3 linked regions of the Homo sapiens genome follow. The protein of the gene in region 2 interacts with the protein of the main gene of each other region in a pairwise test. Each region holds a gene or a part of one and is shown on either strand. Other genes may lie near its edges. The genes, in order: GOLT1A, CPT1B and TEX44.

Region 1 (3,647 bases), on a different chromosome or scaffold from region 2:
TTGAAGCTGCAGGAGTTCACTCAGAGCCAGCAAGCGTAGCCTAGAAGTGCAGGACATGAAGGCCCCCTCGTTTGGTCAAGGGCTACATTTTTGACATTTTGATAAACATATTTCAGATCGCTCCCCTCAAGACGATTTGTACAATAACCGGATATATAGTTCCTTTTTTCCTTAACCCTCTCCAGCACTCAGAATTGTTCATTTTACTTATCTTTGCCACTATGATAGTCAATAAATAAAAATTCATTCTGTTGCTTTGTTTTTAAATTGTTACCTTTTTAAGTTTTAAATTGTGGCAACGTGCACATAAAATGAGACTTACCATCTAACCATTTAAAAATGTACAGTTCAGTGGTATTAAGCGCATCTCCTGAATTCTTCGTCTTGCAAAGCTGAAACTCTACACCCATTAAACAGTAGCTCCCCATTCCCCTCCCACCAGCCTCCAACAACCACCATTTTACTTTCTCTATGAATTTTTGACTACTCTGGGAACCTCCTATAAGTGGAATCATACAATATTTGTCTTTTTGTGACTGTCTTATTTCACTTATCATAACGTTCTCAAGGTTCCTTCATGTTGTAGCATGTGTCTGAATTTTCTTCCTTTTTAAAACAGAATAATAGTCCATTGCTATCTGTACCCTGCATTTTGTTGATCCATTCATCTGTTGATGGACATCTGGGTGGCTTCCATCCATCTCTTACCTATTGTAAATAGTGTTACCATAAATATGAGCATAAGAAAATATCTCTTCAAGACACTGCTTCCGATCCTTTCAGGTATATACCCCACAAAGTGGAATTAACGGAATTATACTGGATCACATGGTAATTCTATTTTTAATTCTTTGAGGAATTGCCATTTTGTTTTCCATTGTGACTGCACCATTTAACATTCCCAGCAACAGTACACAAGAGTTCTAATTTCTCCACATCTTGCCAATACTTTATCTGTTTTGTTTTGTTTTGATAGCAGCCATGCTAATGGGTATAAGGTAGTATACATTGTGGTTTTGACTTACATTTCCCTAATGATTAATGATTAATGATCTTTTCATGTGCTTGTTAGCTATGTGTATATCTTCTTTGGAGAATTGTCTAGTTAAGTCCTTTGCCTATTTTTTAAACAGGTTGTTCTTTTTGTTGTTGAGTTGTAGGAGTTCTTTATATATTTTGGATATTAACTATGTAGCGTATGATTTGCAAATATTTCCTCCCACTCTGTAGGTTACCTTTCAGTCTGTTGACTGTGTCCTTTGATGCGGTGAAGTTTTAAATTTTGATGTAGTCTGATTGATGTCTTTTTTTTCTTTTGTTGTCTGTGCTTTTCATGTCATAACCTAGAAATCATTATCAAATCCAGTGCTGTAATGCTTTCCCCTATTTTTTATTCTAAGAGTTTTATAGTTTTAGCTCTTATTTTTAGGGCTTTGATCTGCTTTGAGTTACTTTTTGCAGATAGTATAAGGTAAGGATCCACCTGCATCTTTTGCATGTGGATATCCAGTTTTCCCAGCACTATCTGTTGGAAAGACTGTTCTTTCCCCATTTCATGGTCTTGATGCCCTCGTCAAAAATTTTACTGGACTTGTTAGAATCAGTTCTCATAACCTCTATGAAATTGGTATTATTATTATGCTTTTGCAGATAGTTGTTAAAAGTGAGGGGAAAAATTATTCTGGTGTTTAGAGGCAGAATTGTAAAAACAAAAACAAAATTATCAAGACTAGATTTACTGGCTGAGTTTTATTTACAACTGAAAGAAAATGAAACAACATAATCATCTTCTGGGTAGTTAATCCATCATCTGTTGCTATGCAGATTTTAAGAGGATTAGGATCAATTCCAATACAGAAAAAAGGTCAAAGAGCTTCTTTAAAAGAATCATCAAAAATACAGCAATGAAGCCAGGTGCTCAATGGCTCACACCTGTAATCCCAGCACTTTGGGAGGCTGATGTGGGTGGATCACTTGAAGTCAGGAGTTCAAGGCCAGCCTGGCCAACATGGTGAAACCCCGTCTCTACTAAAAATACAAAAATTAGCTGGACATGGTGGCATGCGTCTCTAGTCCCAGCTACGTGGGAGGCTGAGGCAGGAGAATTGCTTGAACCCGGGAGGTGGAGGTTGCAGTGAGCCGAGATTATGCCACTGCACTCCAGCCTGGGTAACAAGAGCAAAACTCCATCTCAAAAAAAAAGAAAACAGAAAAATACAGTGATAAGATCTAGCATTCAAATTATAGACTGAAACCTTGCTCAACTCATAGTCTGGTATCATGCCAGTCTTACTGGATCTCACTTTTGGCAGAAGCTGGATTTTGTTGGGACCCAGTGTAACATAATTTCTCTCAACATATCACCCAGCTGCCCAGAATCCATTTTCTACTAAAAGCTGATTCCTTGTGTTCCTGACAAGCCTCGTGATCTATTTGGGCTTGTTTCCTACTTCTACCTCCTCCTGCTGGCCTGAATTAAATCTCTTAGAAGCTGGGACAGCTCAGCAGAATATCACCCCCATGGGTCATGATGAAGGTTGTGTTTTGTCAACATTTCCATCCTCAGAGACAACACATTGAGAATCTAGAGTTACATCTACCTGAATTACCAAGATAATTTCGTGTAGGTCAGAATATTGTGGAGGAAGACCACAGTCATCTTTCTTTAACCCAAATGATAAAAGTGTTTTAGGTTTTTATGCTTGTTATAAAATATCTGTTGTTGGCTTATGCCTGCCATAAAAACATCTGTCATTGATTTCAGCTCTGACTATACACCCTTTCCTCCCCCTCAGTAGGTGTATTTGTGTGGAAACACGATGTGCACATTTTACGGGGTTTTCATTTCGTTTTGTTGAACTTTCTATATGTTCATCCTGCACACACTTAAGAACAGCCTCATACTCATTTTGTGGAAACAGCGTAAGTTTCTCACATTCACACATGATGTCCATTCTCCTGTTTATTCCTTCTTCTTCTGCAGCAGTGATTTGCTGGCTGCCATAGTTATCCCTCCTCCACCTGTTCTACACTCTTCTTTAAGGGCAGATGCAATTCCAGGACTCTCCTGTGATGGGGGCAGCCTTCTTTATGGGCCACACTTAGTGCTCTCAGTGCTCAGTGGGACACGAAACCCCACAGAAAAGGGTCAGAAACTCTGTTTCTCACACACAAGCTTCAGACCCGCCTTTGCCTCTTGCTTCTGGAGTAGCTTAGCTATTTTAGTCAAGTTATCCAGCCAGAGGTTACTCCTAAAGTTCTTTTCAGGCAGCAACCATGGCAGAAAGAGTGGAGGGGTGGGGATGTCATACAGATGCCCCCAGGAGTGACAGGTGTGCCTGCCCGGCACGGTCCCCGTGATCCAGACAGATTGGGCAGCGCGCCCTCTGCTGGAGGCGGCCAGGGCTGTCACGCCTACACCCAGCCGAAAAAAGCTGGGAGGCCAAGGTAACTTCAGGGAGGCCCGGCTCTCCAGGCGCCACCTAGAAGTGGAGACCTCCCCAGACCTCAGAGACCAGCTTTAGATCTCCCTGGCAAGGTACACTGATGGCTGCACTGGTGCCCTTGTTTAGCTCCTTGCTCTGCAACTCCCGAGTTGCTGCCAAGAAGAGCCCATGGCCACCCGATACGGACAAGCCAGGCTTCCC
Region 2 (4,221 bases):
GTGTGCTTTGGACCGTGGGAAAGGAGAGAAGAGGCATGCCATACAGCCCAGGTGGCTGGGAGACCCAGAGACTCAGAAGGGCCAGTTACATGGGGCAGAGGCAGACTGACTTCCTGAGCTCTAAAAGCAGCAGCCTGGCCTCCATTCTGCTGTCCGGCTCTGCAGAGGGACACAAAGCAAGACACGTTCTAGACAATTCCCTGGTTATGGTGTCAGGACAGCTGGGAACCCATGGCCAGGAGGCCAGTGAGGAAACCAAGGAAAGAGGTGACAGAGCCCGAGCTGGGCAGGGGCAGTGACCCCGGGACTCTGAGAAGCGGTGGCAGGCTGGCGGTCTCCACTCTCCTCATCCTTAGGATCCCCATTGCCCCTAAGCTGCTTCTGGACTCTTCTAGGATCTCCTCTCTCTCTTCCCTTTCCCTCAGGCCTCACTCCATAACCCCCACTTGCCCACGGAAGCTGCTACTAGAGCTCTGGGCTGTCCTCCAGATCCCTTGCCTTGGAGCTGGGACAGAGCTGAGCACGTGCGGGGACCTGGGGGCTCTAGTTCATACCATGACATAATAGTTGCTGTTCACCATGAGAGGGCTCCTGCCTCGAAGGTAGATGTACTCTTCCCACCAGTCACTCACCTGTGGGGAGGTGGAAGGTTAGAGCTGGGGCGGGTGCAGCCAGGACACATGGCAGGTGACAGTGAGCCCAGGGGCAGGAACTTACATAGTTACTTGCCCACCATGACTTGAGCACCAGGTATTTCTGCAGCCTGGGGGCAGTCTTGTCCTGGAATTCTTTGGCCAGCAACTCCATGCGGTAATATTCCTCATCATCCAACAAGGGGCGCACAGACTCTAGGTACTGTCCAGCCAGTTATCATCACCGTGGGGCCAGATGGCAAGGGCTGCCTCTATCTTAATCCTCTTCCCACCTCTCCCTCCTCACCCAGCCCCATTATTCTCAAGCCCTTAAGGCCACTCTTTGCACAGAACCTTATATTTGGAAACATCTCCTGAATCCAACCTCCCCTGCCCACTGGGATGCCCAAGCGAGGCCCTCACCCGCTGAATTGTGGCTGACACCCTGGGCACAGGAAGCTTGGGCAGAGATGTCTGGAAGCTGTAGAGCATAGGGTGCCGGCTGGATAGAAGGCGGATACACATCTGGGGGTACAGAGCAGAGTGCTGGGGTGGGAGCCAGTGGAAAAAATGGAAACCAACCAGCAACTCCCTGAGACCCTCAGAGCCATCCCAGCCCCTCCAGGACAAACCACACACCAGGCACCAGTGCCCTGTCTGCCTCTCCCGTCTAGCTCAGAACCCCAAAGGAGTCCAAAGAGTCTCAACCCAGGTGCCTGAACCCCTCCACTGGCTGCTGCTCACAGCCCAGATCCTGGTCAAGTTGCTGGTCTTGCCATGCATCTCAAACATCCACCCATGGTAGCAGAGAAGCAGCTTCAGGGTTTGGCGGAAGAAGAAGATGCCCGTCACCCAGACGCCCGTGGAGAAGATGGCCATGCTGAGAAGTGCCCGGGTCTGCGGGGTCTGGTAGGGGCCACACCTATTGGAGAGGGGCAAGGGCTGCAGGGGGTCCTCTTGAGGCCAGCCTCGGGTGGCTGTGAACTGTCTCAGGGGAGACACCAAGGGGAAGAACCTCCCTGGGCACACTCATGTCTGACTGCATCAAATGAGCGGATGTAGGGCTAAGACAATGGTTGTCATAGGGGAGGGCTGCCCCGTGACTGCCAATGGCTGCTGTCCTGTATCTGCCCAGCTCAGGAACCTCAGCCTTGGGAGCTGGGCCCAGCCCTCCCTGGTGGCACCTGTGCCCTTCCAGTTTCACTCCTTACCCCTGAGGGAGGCATCTCTGGATGCAACTGACCAGCCCCAAGGAGATGTCCACGTTGCAGAAGGAGGAACCCACTGTTGCCATGATGACGACCAGCCAGCTGGTGGGGCTGCCAGGGTACACGCCCCTGAGGATGCCATTCTGTGGGCAGAAACAGGCGCCCTTATGGAGCCGGAAGGCGGGAGGTTAGCCTGCCTGTGAAGTCTTGGGAACTGGCTCCTGGTCTTGGCCTGGAAGGCTTTCTCTCCTGATGCCCTGCTGTGCTCCTTCCTCCGCCACACCCACAGCTCCCTGTGTCCGACCACATCCTGTGCACCCCTCTGGTGTCTGTACTTCCACAACCTGTACCGGGCAGAAGTGCCAGCCAAGGAGGCAGTGAGGGACCCTAACAAAGCGCTTAACAGCTGACAGCCGGCCTCTGCCTACGCTCTGGGAGAAGCACCTGTGCGCACCTTGATGCGGATCAGGCGTTTCTTCCAGGAGTTGATCCCAGACAGGTAGACGTGTTTCAGGGCCTCCCGACTGAGCCGGAAGTCGACCCCGTCTGGGGTCACCGTGAACTGGAAGGCCACGGCCTGGTGAGCTTCCGCCATCCTGGGGGTTGGTCGGCACCTAGGACGGGGGCAGATGGGTGCGCGGGCGCGCTTAGGCCGGCCCCGCCGCCAGCCGCGCCGAGACGCCCCCAGCCAGTCCGCGACCCCTCGCGCCCCCCACCCCGCGACTAGCGGCTGCCCCCGGCCCGCGCCCCCCGCCAGGCCAACCGCCGCCAAATCCTCGCGCCAGCCTTCCGGGTGGGCACAGCCACTGTGGTGCAGGGGATTTGGGCCTTGAAAGCTCCAGGAGCCCCAAGGACGGCGAAGGGCAGCCTGGAGTTGGGGGGCGTCAGCGAGGGCGCGGGCAGGGGAGAGAGGCGCCCCTGGAAGTGGAGCCGGCCTGGACAGAGGCAGGGTTCGGGAGCCCGCCCTTCCCCACCCGAGCGCGCGGGCCCCAGCGCCGTCCTCGCCCCTGTGCAGGGCTGAGGGCCCAGACCCCCGCGGGCCGCCCTGTGCCGGCCCCTACTCACAGCTCGGGTTCACTCCTGTCCGTGCGTGGGGCCAGCCACTCTGGCCCGTGTCCCCACGTCCTTCAGGCCTAGCCACCCCCGCCCCGCCCTCACCAGGAACCTGACACCTACTCCCAAATCGGGGTCGGGGAAAAACGTGGGGCGAGAACCAGAACCCACCCACCTTCCGCGGTGGGAATTGCAGGGCGCGGCTGGGTTTCTGTGCGGTGAAGGTTGCTCAAAGGTCTGGGAGCCTGGGGGGCCCCAGAGTCTCGTGAGGATGGTGGCTTTAGAGCTAAAAATAGCCAAATGTAGGGAAAAGGTCACCGATGTGTCAGCTGCTGCCTGTTCTGGGATCGCTGGTGCTCCGGGCGGCATCCCCACCTCAGGGTCGTCTTCATACCCCCATCACTCTCCTCCTCCCCAAGTCCTAGTATTTATTATTCTAAGCTGCAGCCAGGGGACTGGGGAGGGATGGGGGACCCCAACTGGCAGCATGAACGCTAACCACTTTCAATCCCAGAGCACTGAAGAGTCCCTTTGTGTGTACTGCTCGGTTTGGTACTTTCTGCTGCTGCTCAGCAGGGCCAGGACAGGGTGGGAAGAAGAAGCTTGTTTATTGTGTTACATACACAGCACGGGGCTCTGGCCTGCCAGCCATGGGGACCTACTCAAACTCAGGAACAGGCCGGTCTCCTGAACCTCAGTTTCACTTGGGGGCTCAGCCCAGTCGCCAGGGCCTTCTGCTCGTTGTTCCTCCCTCCAAGGTCCTGCCCTGGAGGCTCCAGGAGAAATCCAAGGAGTGGGAGGGTGGAGTCAGGATGAGGAGTGGACACTGGTCAGCTGCCCCTTCTGCTGGAAGTAGAACTGGAACCGAGACTGGGCATAGTCCTAGGGAAGGAAACCCACCCCACACAGTGGTGAGAAGACGTGGGACCAGCATTCTACATCCACCTCAGGCTGCCCACAGCCACCCGGGACTCCCCAGGCCTCCTGGAAGAGTGTGGCTGCTGCTGCTCCCCAGCCCCCCAGCTAGCATTCCCATCCCCAGGGTCACTTACCAAGTAACCAAATTCTATGGTGGACATGGATGCCTGGAGGATGGACCACAGACCCCAGAAGAAATGGGATGCCAGAGCATACCTGGGGGGAGGGCAGGAAAAGGAGGGGCATTCAAGAGCATGTCTAGCACTGCTTGGATCCCCTCACCCAGGTTGGCCAATCCCTACAGTTTTAACTTCTCCCCCACTGTCCTAACTCCACTCTCCACAGCCACCTTCCCTGCAGCTTGATAAATCTGCCTCTTCCCCAATCCCTCTTTCCTCTGCTCTGCCCTA
Region 3 (3,448 bases), on a different chromosome or scaffold from region 2:
CTCCTGCTCCCTCTGCACCCCCAGCTCACCGGAGGATAATGATAATGGCAGCCACCATGTGTGGGCTTATCAAGTGCCAGACACCATGCATTATGGCCTGCATCGCTTCCCTTCTGTCTTATAACAGTGTCATGGTATGGATTTATTCTCTCCTTTCTACAGCTGAGTAGGCTGAGAGTGACGTGATTCGCCCAGGGCAAGTGCTGGCGCTGGGGTTTGAACCCACATGGTGTGACTCAGTACTGTCAACTGCACTGCCTCTTCTGCCTCTCAGCTTGAGCCCGCCAGGCCAGCCTAGGCCCCTGGGAAGGCTCCTCAGGAGCTTACCTGGGTGGAGGTTCAGTAGGGATGGGTTTTTGCAGGTCTGAGACACCCCCCGCCACACTGCCTCCAGCTCTGTCCAGGTTCTTCTCTGCACGTTTGCCCCCAGCCCCTGAATGGGACAGCCTGAGAAACCCTCAGGGGACGCTGTTTCCACCGCACCCCGAGCCCTCCTGTCCTGTCACCGTGTTGCTCACTGCACCCCAAGGGAGGAGGCTGGTGCTTAGAAATAAATGCTCACTGGTGATTTATTGCATGGGCTGGGGGAACCGTCCAGAGCAAGAATGGGCAAGGGAGCAGGGCGTGAGGGTCCCAGGGATCTCTGGAGGCCACTGAACCAGCCCTTCGGGGGTCCCTGTGCAGGGCTCTAATCATAGTTGGGGTCAGCCTGGGCCTGGCGTGGGGTGAGGTGGCTGGTCAGGTAGCGCATGGCTGAGCGGATGCCCTCCACGGTCCTCTGCTCCACTGTCTCCAGCACACGGGTGATGGTGCGCAGGGCTGAGCTGGTCCCTGACACCAGCCCAGAGGAGAAGGCCGAGCTGACGCTTCCCACCAGGCTGGGGACCGAGCGCAAGCTGGGCCCCGAGCTGTGCAGCAGGTCTGCCACAGTGCTGTGGCCGGAATCCAGGAAGCCTGTGGCTATGGCCATGCCCATGGTGGTCTCGGACCACACCAGGATGTCTGCCAGGGAGCTGATGGAGCCCTCGCCCCTGTCCAGCAGGCTGGTCATGGAGCGCATGTAGCTGTTCTCCTCACTGGCCGTGTACAGGCTGGAGTCCAGGGGCCTTCTCCCCAGGGCCACCTCGTGGGGGCCAGGCGACGGGGACACACTGCCTGCTGGAGGTGGAGGGAAGAACCAAGTCTGCAGGTCTCCTAAGCTGTCCACCACATTTGCCCCCATTGCCACTGGGGACTCATCAGATGGTAAAGCTTCAGCTTCAGGGTGTGGGGCCTTTGGATGCTCAGCTTTCTCCTCAGCAGACTTGGTGGTGCTGGCAGCCTGAGGGCCATGCTGGCCATTGGCACCTGCTGTGACATGGTCAGCATCACTCTCGACGGGCTGAGCCTCCATGTGCTGGGTGGACTGTAGCTCAGCACTCGGGGCAGAGGGGGCTGACTCCGGCTCTCTCTCAGGAACACTCGCCATTTGTGACATCTTGTCTTTACCCAGGAGGTGACTTGGGAAAACCACTAGACTCTGACTTGTCCTTGCGTCTTGAACCTGCCTGTCCCACGCTGGATTCTGAAGGCTCATAGACACTTGCAGGGGACTTGGATTTTGGCTGGGAAGCAGAGGTGTGATTTTTCTGGGTGTCTTCTGGCCGTGTTCTGGAACAACTGCACTCTTGTCTTTGTCTCCAGATGTTGATATGGCCCTGGGGGTGGCCGTCTTGAAGGAGGCCTGATCTATATCCTGCCAGTCAGTGGATGCGACAGAGCTGCTCACTGCCAAGACATCTGCTGTGAGTGGGACCTGACCTTGGGGCTCTCCTGCTGGGCTGTCCTTAGACCTGCTGTCATCCACGTTGCCCAGGGGGTACCCTGGGAGTGCCATGTATGGGGCTGCTGGTGGAGCCGGCCTCCCCCTAGGGCTCTCCTGTGGTCATCTATGCCCTTTGCTGCTTGTGGCGGTTGGAGGGAGTGGCTGCAACCCAGCTGGGCTGAGTTGTCCAAGTGGTGAGGTCACAAGGGACTGTGGCCACTGGTGATGTCACAGGTACCCATAGAGCAAGGGTCTTGAGCTTCTGGAGCAGCCTTCCAAGTGGGCTAAGTCTATGGGACAGTTTGTTGCCAACTTTGCAGGTACATAGGGAAAAAATGACAAATGTTCTTGAAAGGGCTGGAGGCGTGTGCACAGGGGCAAGTACAACCACAGGGACACAGGAGGAGTGACAGCTGTGACTCTGACAAATGAGAAGGGATGCAGATGTTGATTTAGAACAGTGTTTATAAGGGACCCCTCCTGGCACCTCTCTGTCTACACTGGTGCCTCAAGACCCCAATTTAGGCTGGGCATGGTGGCTCACTCCTGTAATCCCAGCACTCTGGGAGGCTGAGGTGGGGGGATCACCTGAGGTCAGGAGTTCGAGACCAGCCTGGCCAACATGGTGAAACCCTGTCTCTACTAAAAATGCAAAAAGTAGCCGGGCGTATTGGCGTGCACCTGTAATCCCAGCTACTGGGGAAGCTGAGGCAGAAGAATTGCTCGAACCCAGGGAGTGGAGGTTGCAGTGAGCCGAGATCGCACCATTGCACTCCAGCCTGGGCAAAAGCGTACTCCGTTTCAAAACAAATAAACAAACAAAACAACAACAACAACAAACAACAACAAATAACCACCCCCAATTTAGTCAGTGTTCCTGCAGGGAATCAGTTTCCCAGCAGTGGTGAGTAGGTATAAGCAAAAGCCAAGGGCCTGGGCAGCTCCATTTGTGGCTGTGGGTTTAACCCTTTTGATGTAGGGCAAAAATCTCTATCTTCTCCTTGCTCATCTGGACTAGAAGGGCAGAGAATAACAAAAGGTCTGCAGACCTCTGAGTGTTTCTTGGAGAAGGATAACCCCAGATACACCTACTTGTGCTTAGCTGGGCACGGTGGCTCATGCCTGTGATCCCAGCACTTTGGGAGGCTGAGGCGGGCAGATCATCTGAGGTCAGGAGTTTGAGACCAGCCTGACCAACATGGAGAAACCCCGTCTCTACTAAAAATACAAAATTAGCTGGGCGTGGTGGCACATGCCTGTAATCCCAGCTGCTCGGGAGGCTGAGGCAGGAGTATCGCTTGAACCCCGGGAGGCGGAGGTTGTGGTGAGCCGAGATCGCACCATCGCACTCCAGCCTGGGCAACAAGGGCGAAACTCTATCTCAAAAAAAAAAAAAAAAAATGCCTACATTAAGAAGATGTTTGGAGAGGAAGGCTCAGTCGGTCGTGTCTGTGCTTCTCCAGGGGTTATCAGCTAACATTTAGTGACTGCTTATGGGCAGAAAAGGGCGCATAGCATCCTTCTCATCACCCATCACCTCTGGGTAGGTACGGTTCTACTAGTATACTCAGTTTACACACAGGCATGCTGAGCCTCACAGAGAATAAGCGACTTACTCAAAGCCACACTATTAATAAGAGCTGA

Evidence for each region.
Region 1: the proteins of CPT1B (region 2) and GOLT1A interact in binary tests that used the Homo sapiens proteins (3 or more experiments, as listed by UniProt).
Region 3: the proteins of CPT1B (region 2) and TEX44 interact in binary tests that used the Homo sapiens proteins (3 or more experiments, as listed by UniProt).

The regions. Positions count from the first base shown.
Region 1 is NC_000001.11:204,203,878-204,207,524, forward strand, and holds part of GOLT1A (vesicle transport protein GOT1A), read right to left. Parts: intron 1-3,647. UniProt on the Homo sapiens protein: May be involved in fusion of ER-derived transport vesicles with the Golgi complex.
Region 2 is NC_000022.11:50,575,481-50,579,701, forward strand, and holds the start of CPT1B (carnitine O-palmitoyltransferase 1, muscle isoform), read right to left. Parts: upstream 2,948-4,221; 5' UTR 2,906-2,947; intron 2,538-2,905; exon of another isoform or gene 2,455-2,537; 5' UTR 2,436-2,454; coding exon 2,295-2,435; intron 1,984-2,294; coding exon 1,844-1,983; intron 1,555-1,843; coding exon 1,377-1,554; intron 1,158-1,376; coding exon 1,056-1,157; intron 856-1,055; coding exon 718-855; intron 633-717; coding exon 555-632; intron 1-554. Other genes in the region: CHKB (choline/ethanolamine kinase), read right to left, coding at 3,701-3,775, 3,946-4,027. UniProt on the Homo sapiens protein: Catalyzes the transfer of the acyl group of long-chain fatty acid-CoA conjugates onto carnitine, an essential step for the mitochondrial uptake of long-chain fatty acids and their subsequent beta-oxidation in the mitochondrion.
Region 3 is NC_000002.12:231,591,380-231,594,827, reverse strand, and holds TEX44 (testis-expressed protein 44), read right to left. Parts: upstream 1,965-3,448; 5' UTR 1,877-1,964; coding exon 689-1,876; 3' UTR 552-688; downstream 1-551.